2 linked regions of the Homo sapiens genome follow. The protein of the gene in region 1 purifies or fractionates together with the protein of each later gene. This does not show direct contact. Each region holds a gene or a part of one and is shown on either strand. Other genes may lie near its edges.

What was found.
Region 2: the proteins of AZIN2 (region 1) and TPD52L1 purify together in Homo sapiens (affinity purification with mass spectrometry; 2 studies listed by BioGRID and IntAct, with this or other methods). This does not show direct contact.

The regions. Positions count from the first base shown.
Region 1 is NC_000001.11:33,091,124-33,098,162, reverse strand, and holds part of AZIN2 (antizyme inhibitor 2), read right to left. Parts: intron 6,114-7,039; coding exon 5,941-6,113; intron 4,919-5,940; exon of another isoform or gene 4,882-4,918; coding exon 4,747-4,881; intron 3,616-4,746; coding exon 3,450-3,615; intron 1,457-3,449; coding exon 1,294-1,456; coding exon of another isoform or gene 1,283-1,293; intron 157-1,282; coding exon of another isoform or gene 97-156; coding exon 1-96. UniProt on the Homo sapiens protein: Antizyme inhibitor (AZI) protein that positively regulates ornithine decarboxylase (ODC) activity and polyamine uptake.
Region 2 is NC_000006.12:125,226,740-125,233,778, forward strand, and holds part of TPD52L1 (tumor protein D53), read left to right. Parts: intron 1-2,378; coding exon 2,379-2,527; intron 2,528-7,039.

The DNA.
Region 1 (7,039 bases):
TAGGGCAGATGTTGTCAAACAGGACTGAGTTGAAGATCCCATACACGCCCTCATCAAGGTGGTACACGATGGTCTTGGAGGTGGAACCATTTTCCTCTGCAGGAGGGGAGGGTTCAGAGGCAGCACAAGTAGCAATGTGAGGGGGTGGTAGTGGGGCTGACACAACAGTGGGCTCAGTAAGGAAGCAAAATGGCTACCCATTCCTCAACCATGAGGCGAGGCCTACAACAAAAGCCATCAGCAGCCATCCTTCCAATGACATGGGTTCACTGCCGTGTTAGGAACACTCACCCCTGCAGCCAAGCAACCTGCCCAGGATGCACTCCCCTGCTTGCATCTGAGCCCCTAGGTGCCCCAGCAAAGGCAGAAGAGCAGCCCACCCAAACTCAAGACCCCAAAAGGTTAAGCCACTTGCTCAGAGGCACATGATAGGGCAGTGGATGAGCCAGAATGAGAAGCCAGGTCTCTTGATTGGATCAGACGGGACAATCCCCCAGGTCTATAAAGGAAGCCAGAAGAATGCCACACACGAACACAGGACATTCTACCTGGAGCCCACCACCCTTCACATGAATTCTCTCTGGGGAAAAGCGCACAGTCCTGAGGCTCCCCTGCATGAGGGTCCCAGAGCAGAGGGCAAGCCTCAAGATCAGAGTCCCTGACACCTGTCACTCACAGGCTGCTATCCCTGACCTATCTGGAAGGGGAGGGAAGAGCACTGATGTTGGTGATGTGGGCCCAGAAGCGCTGAGTCAGCCTAACCTGAACTTGAATCCCCACACTGCCCCTTATCAGCCATGTGACCTTGGGCTAATGACTCAGCCTCCCCCTGCCTATGTTGTCATCTGTAAAGTGGACTCAAACAAATGTAAGCTGTCATTAATTATTTTCATTATATTATGAGAAGCAGTAGGGTGAGTAGGAGCCTGTATTTTGGAGAGGAGACAGACATGGGGTCAAATGCAGGCTCTTACTAGCTATTAAGCAGTTCACTTGTATTCTCTTTGGTTCTCGGTTTCCTCATCTGTAAAATGGGGTCAACAGAGTATCTATTCTCTCTAAGGTTGTTTTGCTCTCAATCTTCACAAAATATGAACATGCCTAGGAAAAAAGATGCTAAATAAATGTCTTGGGGTGGGGCGACTTGACTGAAAGTTTCCCTAAAGCAAGAACCCATTCATTCTCCAGATTCCCCCATCCTCTGCCACTGGGTCTAAAACCAGATCCTGCTCAGCCAACCACTATCTGAAGCTTCAGGGGAGAACAGGGCTCCACTGCCCACCTGGCACCTACCCTCCCTGCCAGGCTGGTCTAGCAGAACCTCCTTCTTGGCAATGATGCTGACTGCCACAGTGAAGGCCGAGGTCACGTAGTAGCGCCCCAGCTCAGCAAAGATGTCCACGCCACAGCCCTCTGGGAAGTACAGGTCCAAGGCTGAGTTGATCACGGAAGCAATCTGGTAGGAGGAGAATGGGGAGACAATTATGTGTTTGAAATGTGGGCTTTATGCTGAAGACTTGCTACAGCTCCAAGTCTATTTCTTGAAAGCTGCTTTGATTTCCGGAAGAAGGATTTGGCAGCTGCTAAGGCCCCAGCTGATAACTGTGGACAGCTGGCCAAGAAGGTAGGAGGGGGACAGAGCTGGGTAGAGAGCCTCGTGCTTGTGTAAATCACCCTCCTCCATGGCCCCACAATGGGAAGGAGTCCTCTTCATATCACACTTGGTACTCAGATTCCAGAAGCCCTGATGTGGATCTTTCTTTCATAAATAACCAGTTTGTTAAATACAGTTGACCCTTAAACAACACAGGTTTGAACCGTGTGGGTCCACTTATGCATGGATTTTCTTCTGCCTCTGCCACCCTGAGACAGCAAGACCAAGCCCTCCTCTTCCTGCTCCTCCTCCACAGCTTTCTCAACTTGAAGACAATGAGGACAAAGACCTTTATGATGATCCACTTCCACTTAATGAATAGTAAATACATTTTCCCTTCCTTATAATTTTCTTAATAATATTTTATTTCTGGCCAGGCATGGTGGCTCATGCCTGTAATCCCAGAACTTTGGGAGGCTGAAGTGGGCAGATCACTTGAGGTCAGGAATTCGAGACCAGCCTGGCCAACATGGTGAAACCCCGTCTCTACTAAAAATACAAAAAATAGCTGAGCATGGTGGCTTGCACCTGTAATCCTAGCTACTTGGGAGGCTGAGACACGAGAATCTCTTGAACCCAGGAGACGGAGGTTGCAGTGAGCCAAGATTGTGCCACTGCACTCACGCCTGGGTGATAGAGTGAGACTCTGTCTCAAAAAAAAAATTATTTCCTCTAGCTTACTTTATTGTAAGAATACAGTATATAATACATATCACACATAAAATATCTGTTAATCGGCTGTTTATGTTATCAGCAAGGCTTCTTGTCAACAGTAGGCTATAGTAGCTAAGTTTTAGGGGAATCAAAAGTTATATGCAGATTTTGTAGTGTGTAGGGGGTCGGTGCTCCTAAGCTCTGCGTTGTTCAAAGGTCAACTGTAATATACTTGATTACAGAAAATTCAGAAAATACAGAAAAGGAAAAAGAAGATAAAAGTCACTCCAAAGTCTATCAACTAGATGAATCTAATTATTGTTAACTTTTTGGAGTAGTGTCTTTAATTATTTTTTATACAAACGCTATTTTTTATTATAACCATGGTAGGTCTCTGTATATGTTTTTGGAACCTGTTTTACTTAATAGACTGTGAACGACCTCCCCACATTAAGGAAGTGTTTTCATCAAAAGGATGTACCATAATTTAACAAATCCTGAGTATTAGATGGACCAGGGAAGTCCACTGGACTTCTGTTAGGAACAAAGCTAGAACAGTCATCTTTGAGGCAAATTCTTTGAGACTATCCCAAATCATTTCTGTAAGGTCAATTCCTACATGTCGGTATTCCCGAAGGAGGCGCCTTCCAAGAAGAGGCGACCTCTAGTGGTTGGAGTGGGAACTGCTAGGACACATTTTTCTTAACTTCACCTCACAGTGGGTAAGGAAAAGGGAATAGAGGAAGAGAATGGACAGGCAGCAGACCAAAGGTTGGTTTTCGTTTCCCTGCCTCCCCACCCGATATCTCATCAGCCCACCTTAGGGTGAAGAGGCCTATCCCGCCCCTTAAAGAGCCTTACGACTTATGTAAATGTGTCCTGGTTATGCCTCCAATTGGCTGAAGTGCATGGCAGGCAGAACCAGGTTCTGCTTTGGGCTCAGGAAGCAATGTAACCTCTGTGAGCCTTGGCTTGCTCAGCTGTAGCACAGGGTTAATAAGCAGTGAGATCACCCAGGTAAGCACCAAGCACTGCATGCAGTGCATAGGACCCACGCACGGTGGTCTCCCTCCGATCATCTAATCCCTCCCTATCCTCCCCGCCATAGAGCCCAGCATGACACTCCCAGCTCCAGGGTTACCTCTTCAAATCTCACTTTGGCCCCTTCTGTGCCAGGGAAGCCACCACCAAGGTCCAGAACGTGCATCTTGTGACCCAGCTCGGTGCCCATTTCAAACACGAGCCGGGCGTCTGCGATGGACTGAGCATAGGCCTGAGGGTCAGGACAGCCACTGCCAATGTGAAAACTGGGAAGAGAGGAAGAGCCTCGGCTGACATGCAGGGCTCCAAGTGCCACCACCTGAGCCCCAGCCAAGAATGACATTGGGCAGGCACATGAGACACTGTGCCCATTTTACAGATGCAGTGACCAAGGTCCTGAAATGTTCAATGGGTTGCCAAGGGCCATATGGCAAGGGAGAAGTGGACAGGAGGCTTGATCCAAGGGCTCCTGGCACTTGGTGCTCCTCCCATCCCTCCTTCTGGGATGAGAGCCAGGACCCCCAAGTCAACCAGATCTGGCTGTGCCTCCCAGTCAGCAGGGTGGCCTTGGCAGCTTACTCAGCTTTGTTTTAGTTTCCCCACCTATAATGCGGGGACAAGACCCACACCACACAAGGCTGAGAGAATGTGCATGAAGCACTTAGCACAGCACCTGGCACACCTAAGTACAGAATAAATGAAGCCCTATATTAGGTAGTTCATTGTTCATTAGGTAGTTCATTATTACTCCTTCCATATCCCTGTAAGAAAAGAGGCACACAGCTGGGTGCAGTGGCTCACACCTGTAATCCCAGCACTTTGGGAGGCCAAGGCAAAAGGATTGCTTGAGCCCAAGACTTTGAGACCAGCTTGAGCAATAAAGTGAGACCCCATCTCTACAACAAATAAAAATTAGTCAGGTGTGGTAATGCACGCCTGTGGTCACAGCTACTTGGGAGGCTGAGGCGGGAGAGAGAATTGCTTGAGCCTGGGAGCTCAAGGCTGCAGAAAACCATGATCATGCCACTGCACTCCAGCCTAGGTGACAGAGTGAGACCCTATCTCAAAAAAAAAAAAAAAAAGAAAGAAAGAAAAGAAAAGAGGCCCCTCAAGAGTGTAGCTGCAAAACCTTTGTCCTACAGGCTGGTAAGACTCCCTCAAAGCCAGGTCTCTGGATGGAACTTCCTGGGACAAGACCTTCTGGGGACCCTGGGACTGGGGAAGGGACCCTTCTAAACTTCCTTTTCAAACAGAGGAAATTCTCAAATGGAAGAATTCCAGGCCCAGGGACAGGCCCTACTCAGAGGCCCTGGGGAAGGTCTCATATAGAATTAATTCCTGGGAAAGAGGCAGGGAGCCTGGTGTGGGAGGGGATGGCAGGGGTTCCCAGTGCTCACCTCACACCCACCACCTCCACATGGTGCTTCTTCGCATTTTCAAGCAGGTGTCTGCAGGATTTCAGTGACACTCCAAACTTTAGGCTCAGGCAGCTCAGGGAGTGGGAGTCATCGGTAGCAATGCACAGAACCATCCTGATGAGACACGCAGTGCCCCTCTGCTGGACAAACCCTGTCGCCCCACCCCAGCCACATCTCTCAATCAAGGGCTGTGAGCTACATGGCTCAGAGCCACCCAACCCCACAGGCTCCCTGACCCCTCCCTCTCCCTACACAGCCAATCAACCTTCAAGTCCTGTCCAATCCATTCTCTAAATGTCCCTGACCCATTCCTGCAGCCCCTGCGCCCTGGTCCAGACCTCACCAACTCTCCTGGGGCAGCTCCAGTCCCTCCAAATCAGTCTCCACACCAGTTAGAGCTTTCAAACTTGTCGTGTATGAGAGGAACCATTTTTAAACAAAGCCTTAAGGAGAACCCATTAATACGATGGAAGCTGCTTTGGATGGACTGGAGTGGCCCATCACCTGGCCACCCCCTTCACCCCAAGGCCCCTCCTGGGAAGTCCAAGGGTGTCCAGTAATCATGTAAAAGGCACAGCCAGAGCAAAACGTCCAGCCCTGACCCCTTCGAAAGTCCATTTGCATCGGCTCCCCGCCCCCGACCAGGATCTCCTTCACCCCCTACACATAGCATGCGTCAGCCACACTAAGTTTCTGCTTACGCTTGAATGTCCCATGCTGTTTCCAACCTCAATGCATTTGCTTACGCAGTTCACTATTTATGCCCCCTCCAAATTCTATTCATTCCTCAAGGCCTGCTTCAAATGCCACTTCCTCCGTGGAGCCTTCCTGACCACTCCCTCGACTCTCTCAAGCCTGTGACTTTGGCCTCCATAACACATGGGTCTCACTCTGCCTAGGGCTTTAACCAGTTATTTCTGCCTTTGTTCTAGCTAGACCCTAGCATCCTGGGTTCAGTCCAGGAGTACCTGCCCCAACCTCCTGCAACTGTGGCTGGGTCCAGGACAGGGTGACCTGCCCCAGCTCCACCCCCTCACCCCACCCCCCCCTTCACTCTGAAGCCCAGCCTTCCCTCAGCCCAGCCTCCCCACAGCCCAGCCTCCCCACAGCCCAGGCTCCCCACAGCCCAGGCTCCCCACAGCCCAGCCTCCCCATGAGTGGTTCTCAGCTTACTTGGCACTGGGGTGGCTCTTTACCACCTTTGCCAGCTCCATCTCATTGTCAAAGCTCAGCAGCTGGATCCCATGCTTGGCAGCATATTTGATCTGTGCAATTTGCTTACAGGGGTTGGCGCAGATGATCTTACTGGCAGGGATTCCAATATGCTGGACCAACTCCATCTCTGCCTATGGGGCCCCAAAGGTGGTTGTAAGGAGGCACCAGGGCCTGCTAGCCCACGGAGCCCAAGGAAGCACAGATGAGGGCAAAGTCATAGCTATGCATAGGGAGGCCCATAACAGTGGGCCTTGCTCTAAGACAACAGATACATAGATATCAGGACTTACATGGATTCACCATTCTTTGATAAGCAGGGCTGCCATGTACAGCCATGCGGGTGGTACACTGAACAATCCTGGGGGTGGGGAGTTCCCATTCAGAATGAATACAGAGTAGATTTGTATATTTATTAAAACTTCCTGGCAGTAAAGCATCTCATTCTAAGAAAATCAGTATATTTATTATAACAATTAATTGTCTTAAGGAAAGGGTACATTTTCTAATTTACACAAAGGCATTATATGGACTCATGGTAGCCCTGACAACAGGCTTCTGACACATTTTCCTGGCAAATTTAAATGTTTAAATATTACTTGGAAAACAGTATGGAGGTTCCTCAAAAAAAAAACTGAAAATAGGACAGGGCGCAGTGGCTCACGCCTGTAACCCCAACACTTTGGGAGGCTGAGGTGGGCAGATCACTTGAGGCCAGGAGCTTGAGACCAGCCTGGGAAACATGGCAAAACCCCATCTCTACCAAAAATACAAAAATTAGCCAGGCTTGGTAGTACATGCCTGTAGTTCCAGCTACTCAGGAGGCTGAGGCAGGAGACTCACTTGAACCCAGGAGGCGGAGGCTGGAGTGAGCCGAGATCACATCACTGCACTCTAGCCTGGGTGACAGAGCCAGACTCCATCTCAAAAAATAGAACTACCAACTACCATATGATCCAGCAATCCAATACTGGGTATACATCCAAAGGAAAGGAAGTCAATATGTAAAAGAGATATCTGCACTCCCATGTTCAGTGCAGCATTATCCACAATCGCCAAG
Region 2 (7,039 bases), on another chromosome or scaffold:
TTTTAATAGAGAATAAAAGGCTGACATGAACCCCAAGCATTTTCTGTGGTAAAAGAGCAAGAGATACAACCATGAGAAATATTGGGCAGCAGATTAAATGGAGGAGGACACATTGACAAAGATGAAAAAGAGAAATATGACATGATAACAAAAGAATAGAAGGGCTTAATTTTAAAATAACAGTGTATTCTCATTTAATGGAGAGACTAAAAGCATTATTCTCTTTACTGGTCCCTAAACATACTCCTTTTACAGTAATCAGTGTATGTATGCACACTGAAGACTCTTGCTCATCAAGGAAAGACAGGGTTCTATTGATTATACTATGTTTGTAGAATATGTAATTCACTTTAGATTTTAGAAAGATGTCCATGTACATATAAAAAATGTTCTGTGAACATAAAGAAATGGATAATGTTAAATTGCCAGGACATTTTGCTGATATTAAAAACCCCAAGATATTGCTACTTCTTACTGTGGTATTTAAGATGCTTGTGATTCAGTATTTCTGCTTGTTTTGCTTACGTGATTATTTGTGTATATAAAGGTTCGCAAAACCATTTCTGTCTGTTCACTATTGGCGCTAGTGAAAGACTGGGGGGTTTTATTGCATGTTTTGCTTTTGCAAAGGCAGATGCCCTTCTTGAGCTGCTTTCCCAGGAGCTGTGACTCTGGTGATCCAAGGAACGCATTTGCAAGATGACTGACAGCCTGACAGGGTTGGTGTGATGCAGCTTGTGGTCCGAAGTAGAGTGACACTTTACAGTAAATGAGCCACAGTTGCTCCTTTTTAAAAAAAATTTAGTAAGAAATCCACTAAAGTGACAGAGTTTTATTACCTCCATGCATGTGGGATACTAAGGTAGTTCTAATGATTCTTTTCCGGCTTAACAAGGAAAAGTCACAAAATTTGTTTTCCATATTTCAGAAAACAAAGATGTAAATGTAAGCACTGATACCAGAGCAATATGTTATAGAGTATGACAACTAATTAAAATCAAAGACTTTGTGATTTATTCAGATTTATTTTCACAGGATAGAACAGCACTTTCCAAAATCTGAGTACTTTACAGAGCTCTTTTGTTAGAAATTGCATTTGCAAGAGCAATTTTATAGTGCTGAAGAGATCTGCTTTTCTGTAGCACAGGGGAAAGAGGAAATATGTCCATACGAAGCCTTGTACATGAATGTTCATAGCAGCTTTATTTGCATTAGCCTAACCTAAATGCCCTTCAACAGGCAAATAAACAACACACTTTGGCATATTCATTCAATAGAATACTACTCTGCAAAAAAAGGGGAAGAACCATTGATAATGCAGCAACATAGATGAATATAAAATAACTATCTGCAAAGCCAAGCAAAAATGAGTGTATACTCTATGATTCAATTTGTATAAAATTCTAGTAAATATCTGCAAACTAAACCCTAGGGAAAGAAAGTCAGTCAGTGGCTGTCTGGTGAGAGTGGATTGGGGGAAAGGAAAGAAGAGGGAGGGAGGAAGAAGAAGAAGCAAGTAAAAGGTGATGAATATGTTCACTTCCTTGATTGTGATAATGGCTTCACGGGTAGATACATATGTTAAAACTTACAAATTATACATATACACTTTAAATGTCTGCAGCTTATTGTATGACAGTTACAGGTCAATGAAACTGTTAAAAAGAAAAATCAACACAAATCACTCTTTTACATACATCCTCTAATCCCTTGTTCCTTCCTTTCTTAAGGCATTAGCTTGGCAAAACCCCATTGTCTGCCAATTCCATTCCTGCACCTATGCAACTGTGTGTGGTTGGCAAAAAATAAACTACACTGAGACCAGGCGTGGTGGCTCACGTCTGTAATCCCAACACTTTGGGAGGCCAAGACAGGAGAATCCCTTGAGGCCAAGAGTTTGAGACCAGCCTGGTCAACATAGTGAGACCCTGTCTCTTTAAAATAAATAAATAAAGTGGCACTTGAGAAGAAGTTATATAAAATAAGGGTACAGTAGAAAACCAATTTTTGTTCAAAAATTATGTCTATATACAACTTATAGAAAGAACATTTGGAAGTTTAGAAACCAAAAAATAAGCAGTGGCTATTTCCTAGCAGGATACAGGTGATTTTTATTTTCTTGTTTATGTTTTTCTGTACAATCTCACTTTTTTTTTTAACAAGCAGCATAAATTACTTCTATAATCATTAAAATGAAAAATTCTGTTTCTACTTTGAGATATTAGACTATCATCTGTATGGGGTGTATTTGGCAAACCTACACATGGGATTGTATAAATAGGAGGGTCAGAGGCTGCTTTGGAATACCCAGAGCTTCTGTAAGTATCCTTTTTTGCTGGTCTGACATTTTCCCCCACCATTTCCCCTCCGCCTTGTAGCTAGAAGACGAAATTACAACACTACGACAAGTTTTGTCAGCGAAAGAAAGGCATCTAGTTGAGATAAAACAAAAACTCGGCATGAACCTGATGAATGAATTAAAACAGAACTTCAGCAAAAGCTGGCATGACATGCAGACTACCACTGCGTAAGTATCATATGAACAGTGTTTTATTAACTCAGCCTGATGTCTCCTCACTCTGTTGTGTTTTGTTTCATTTTTCCTACAAGGCTGATTTGGTGCATGAAGCTAGGAAAAAAAAATACTTTCTCTAAAAGCAAAGCAAAGAAATGTGAATAATCATTAAGTATGCTGCATGTGAAGCAGATTCTATAAAGTAGCTTCATGAAATAAAACTCTGTTCACTGAAACTCTATTTTCACTCAGACTACTTTCATTAGGTTTTATTGTTTAAATGTTTTTCTCTTTATATTTTTAACATTTGTCAAATATACTTTTTTTAAAACTTTTTCTCATAAAAACTATAAATGGGAAGGTGTTTTCTCCTCAGCACACTTGACACTCACTATGTATGTCTTCCAAAAGTGGTTGGCAGTTTCAATACTGACTTGCTGGCAATTGATTTACAAAGAAAACCTTGTACTTTTCATCTTTTGTTTTGCACTTTTCATTCTCACTATTCTAGGGAATATTTAGAGCTGGGTTTAGACCAGTTTTAGAGCTTGGTTTAGATTACAGTTTTGGCCCTGTAATCCCAGCACTTTGGGAAGCTGAGGCGGGTGGATCACAAGGTCAGGAGATCAAGACCATCCTGGCTAACATGGTGAAACCTCGTCCCTACTAAAAAATACAAAAAATCAGCTGGGTGTGATGGCATGCCCCTGTAATCCCAGCTACTCGGGAGGCTGAGGCAGGGGAATTGCTTGAACCCAGGAGGCAGAGGTTGCAATGAGTCGAGATGGCGCCACTCCACTCCAGCCTGGCGACAGAGGGAGACTCTGTCTCAAAAAAAAGAAAGGAAGAAATGGTTTTTGCTTTGCCATTATCGTCCTGTCTTGTGCTAGGTAAGGTACAGAATAATCTCAGTTATTCTACAATCACACTTTTTTTATTAGATTATTCTTAAGTTGCATGAAATATTTAATGATGATGGTACTTTTCTAATGTTGCAAAGTATTTTACCTGCTGGGGGTCTTGTACCAAAGGGGAGTACTCCACATATGTGATGTGATTTTTCTTCTTTTTGTGTATTGGGGGTTAGGGGCTGATGAGGAAATCACAGAGGCTTTATCCCTAGCCGTAACTTTAGTCCCAAATTTCACCATTAAGAAATTGTCTTTGGGTTATGCATTTTCTTCTCTACTATCACACTTTGGAAGGTAAAGATATTGCATTCCTAATACCTAAGTGGGAGTCAATTTTTCTTTCTCCTAGGCATAGAAAGGCCTGATGGTAGGAAGAGGTACCAATAATTGACAGCAATTATTTCAGTTTTGCCAGCAGCCAAATTTGCCTGCTGGTTCCTAAGAACTAAGATGTAAGCCTTTTTGCTCCTATGAGAAGATGTCCTTTGTATGAGGAATTGGGTCTAAAACGAGCATGACATCTCCCCAACTTCCTTAGTTTCCATAAGAATGAGAATGTTTTTCTCCCTCTAAATATGGCCTAGCAGTCCTATTGGGCTCTATGCTTGTGCACCCTAAGGACTCAATCAGATAGGTTCAGGGCACAGCCCAGAGTCAGGCAGAATGTAGCCAGGGAGCTTGTCAGTTTATCTCCAGAAGTTAACCAACATTCCCCAACCTAATGATGACAATTACGGGAAAAAATAAGAAACCACACATTGATGTGCAGCAATTTAAAAGATAAGTTGCAACACCATATGAACAATCTCCTGAAAGGATAACTGGATTTTAGGCATTAAATTAAATGAGCTTATCTGTCAGTAGTTTTGGCCTCTGTCTTTCCACTTTCGTGGCCAATACCAATTAATGGCCCTGACAGTGTAAAGTTGAACAAGCTCTAATTCTCTGGGTTTGGTCACCTCTGTATTTAATCCAGGCCTGAGGGTTTCGTATAACACTGGTCTGAACTTCCCTGTGGGGTATAAGTACCAGGAAGACCTTCCTGCATGGCCTTCCTAATCACATTGCATAGGTAAACTAACCAAATGGAAGGTGGGGCAATGCTGGCAGTTTTGTTGCTGAAGGAGAGAGGTGCCTGGCAGGGAGGTGGGAATGTCTGAGCAGAGGGAGTGTCAAGTTTGTGCAAGGTCTGCCAGGGGAAGGGAGGGGAGAGACTCATATTCCTCCTGGGACTGGAAATAGAGCTGGCAAGTTCAAGGAAGGCTTCTAGCCTCTTCCCACAGGGGATAATGTCTAATTTGTGTTTTTCCATGTTTGAAAAACTAATAGGTTTTATAGCCAGGTAGTCTACTTAATGTAAAGCATTTTGCTGGATGAATAGCCTAGATTTATTCCCTGGGGTTATGGAGTTTAGAGTCTAGTTAGGAAGACAGAGTTTGAGTTTTTGTTGTTGTTGTTGTTGTTGTTGTTTGTTTGTTTGTTTATACGACAAAATCATGGACAAGGGGGATAGAAAGGATTTGGAGAACAGATCAACAGTGGTTTGCAGGTGGATGATGAAGGAAATAGGACCAAGTGTGATGTCTAGGCCTTTGACTTGGGCTACTGAGTGAGTGTTGGAACTGTTTACGAGCATTGTGGTTAGGCTCATGGTTGCTTGGGTTGAAATCTAGGCCTTGCTGCATTCATGAAGTGAGATCATCTTAATGCCGATCCCATAGGTAGTGAAGATTCAGTAAGTTAATGTTCGTAAAGGCTGCAGGACAGCATCTGACACTTTGTAGGCATGAAATGATTATTTGCTGCTGTGAGAAAGACTGAGAAACAAGTCTGGAGGAGAGGCACAATAATTCGTTTTGGCTCCGTAAAGTCTGAAATGCCCAATAGATAAACAGATTTATAGGCTGAGAGGACAACTCAGTGTAAAAGTTTAAGGCAGAGATGGACATTTGGGATTCAACTGCATATAGATAACATCGAAAACTAGATGACTAGATGAGATTTCCCTGGGGATTACTTAATAAATACAAATGGTCATGAACTCACTAACCTTTAGGAATGAAGTGAACTTTCCTTTGTAGGGAAGAACCAGTCCCTCTCTTTAGGAGGAGGCATAAGTCTATCAACCATATAATTTGGGGAAAGGGTCTGTCCCCAACCCTTTCTTCTTGGTTGTTGAGGGAAGGCAGCGGATCTTAATCATATGTTTGGAGGAGCGATAAAATCTGTATCCCTCTGAATTAATTAAACCCCTGCTCTTAGTGCTGTTTATGATACCCATTCCAGGACAAAATCTGCACCTCATCTGATGAAAAATTTGATGTGAAGAAATGATGAGCTATGATCAGGTTAGGTTAGGTAGAATTAGATTTCAAAGCACTAAAAAAAATTTTTAGCTGTCAGAGGATGTGTGTGATTCCCAGAGGCAATACTTTGCATACTGATTAAGCAATCATGACCTATTTAGTTTGATTTATAATGAAAAGAAAATCTATGGTATGTTAATGAAAGATCTTGGCATATTTCAGTCTGCAGTAGGATTCAAATTGAAATAGGCCTTGATAAGTAGGAATAATTACACAGCAGACTGAAATTACCTCCTTTACAGAAAGATTCCAGGAATACAGGAAAAGGTCAAGGGATCATCGGTATCCAGGGTTTCTTGTTGCTGTTGTTCTTGTCATAGTTTTTTACTTGCCTAGATTTGTATCTAAGAACATACAAAAAAGTCCTCTCCATTTTTTGGTTTTCTGCTGCCTTTTTATGTTGTCTTTAGACTTCAAGGAGACATGGGAGAGGTGGGTGACTTTGGGGTAAAGGAGGAGAAATTGAATCTCTTCTGTAGGCAGAAGTAGAATCAGGAAATACAACTTTATGGTGGGCTATTCAAAGCAGTGGGCTTCATGTATTCAACAAGTATTCTGCTTTGCTAACCCATGAAACATGAAATCCCCCCACTAATAAACCCCTCTGAATCGTGCCACAATCTAAATGGTAAGTCGACAGAGGGCAGAGGTTTTGGAAAGGAATTTAAACTATTCCATCTTTTTGAAAGCTTAATAATTTTATCCTACATAAAGAGGACGAAAAGCCTCACATTCAGCATTTTAAAAACGCACAGTGCTCAAAAATTGAACGTTAGTTTATGATTTATTTACTCTTTGATTTTGTTCTTCTAAGACTTCCAGGCCATTAATGGTCAGGAATTCTTATTATCTCTTTTTATGAGGGAGCCTGGTTGTAGCACTATTGAGTTCAGGAGTGCCAGTGAAGATTAAAGACCTAATTTTAAAAGATGTACACACCCAATCTCTCACATGGTTGTTCATTCTTTTTACCTTCAGGCTTTCATCTTATTACACAAGGCAGGAAGTAGATTCTTTTCTTCTAGATTCAAGTGGTAAATTTATGTTCTGATAACATATTTAGGGAGCCTTTGGAATAAAATAATCTTAAATGTTTTTTTGTATCTTTGGTGAAATGCTGCATATTCAACCATTAAAGGAACACTTTCTTTTAAATCTCATAAGAGGAAATATATTCGTGCTGTAAAATATCTTCTTCTAAAAAGATGAATTTTTTATTTCTTCTAGTTGTATGTAGAAAAATGCTT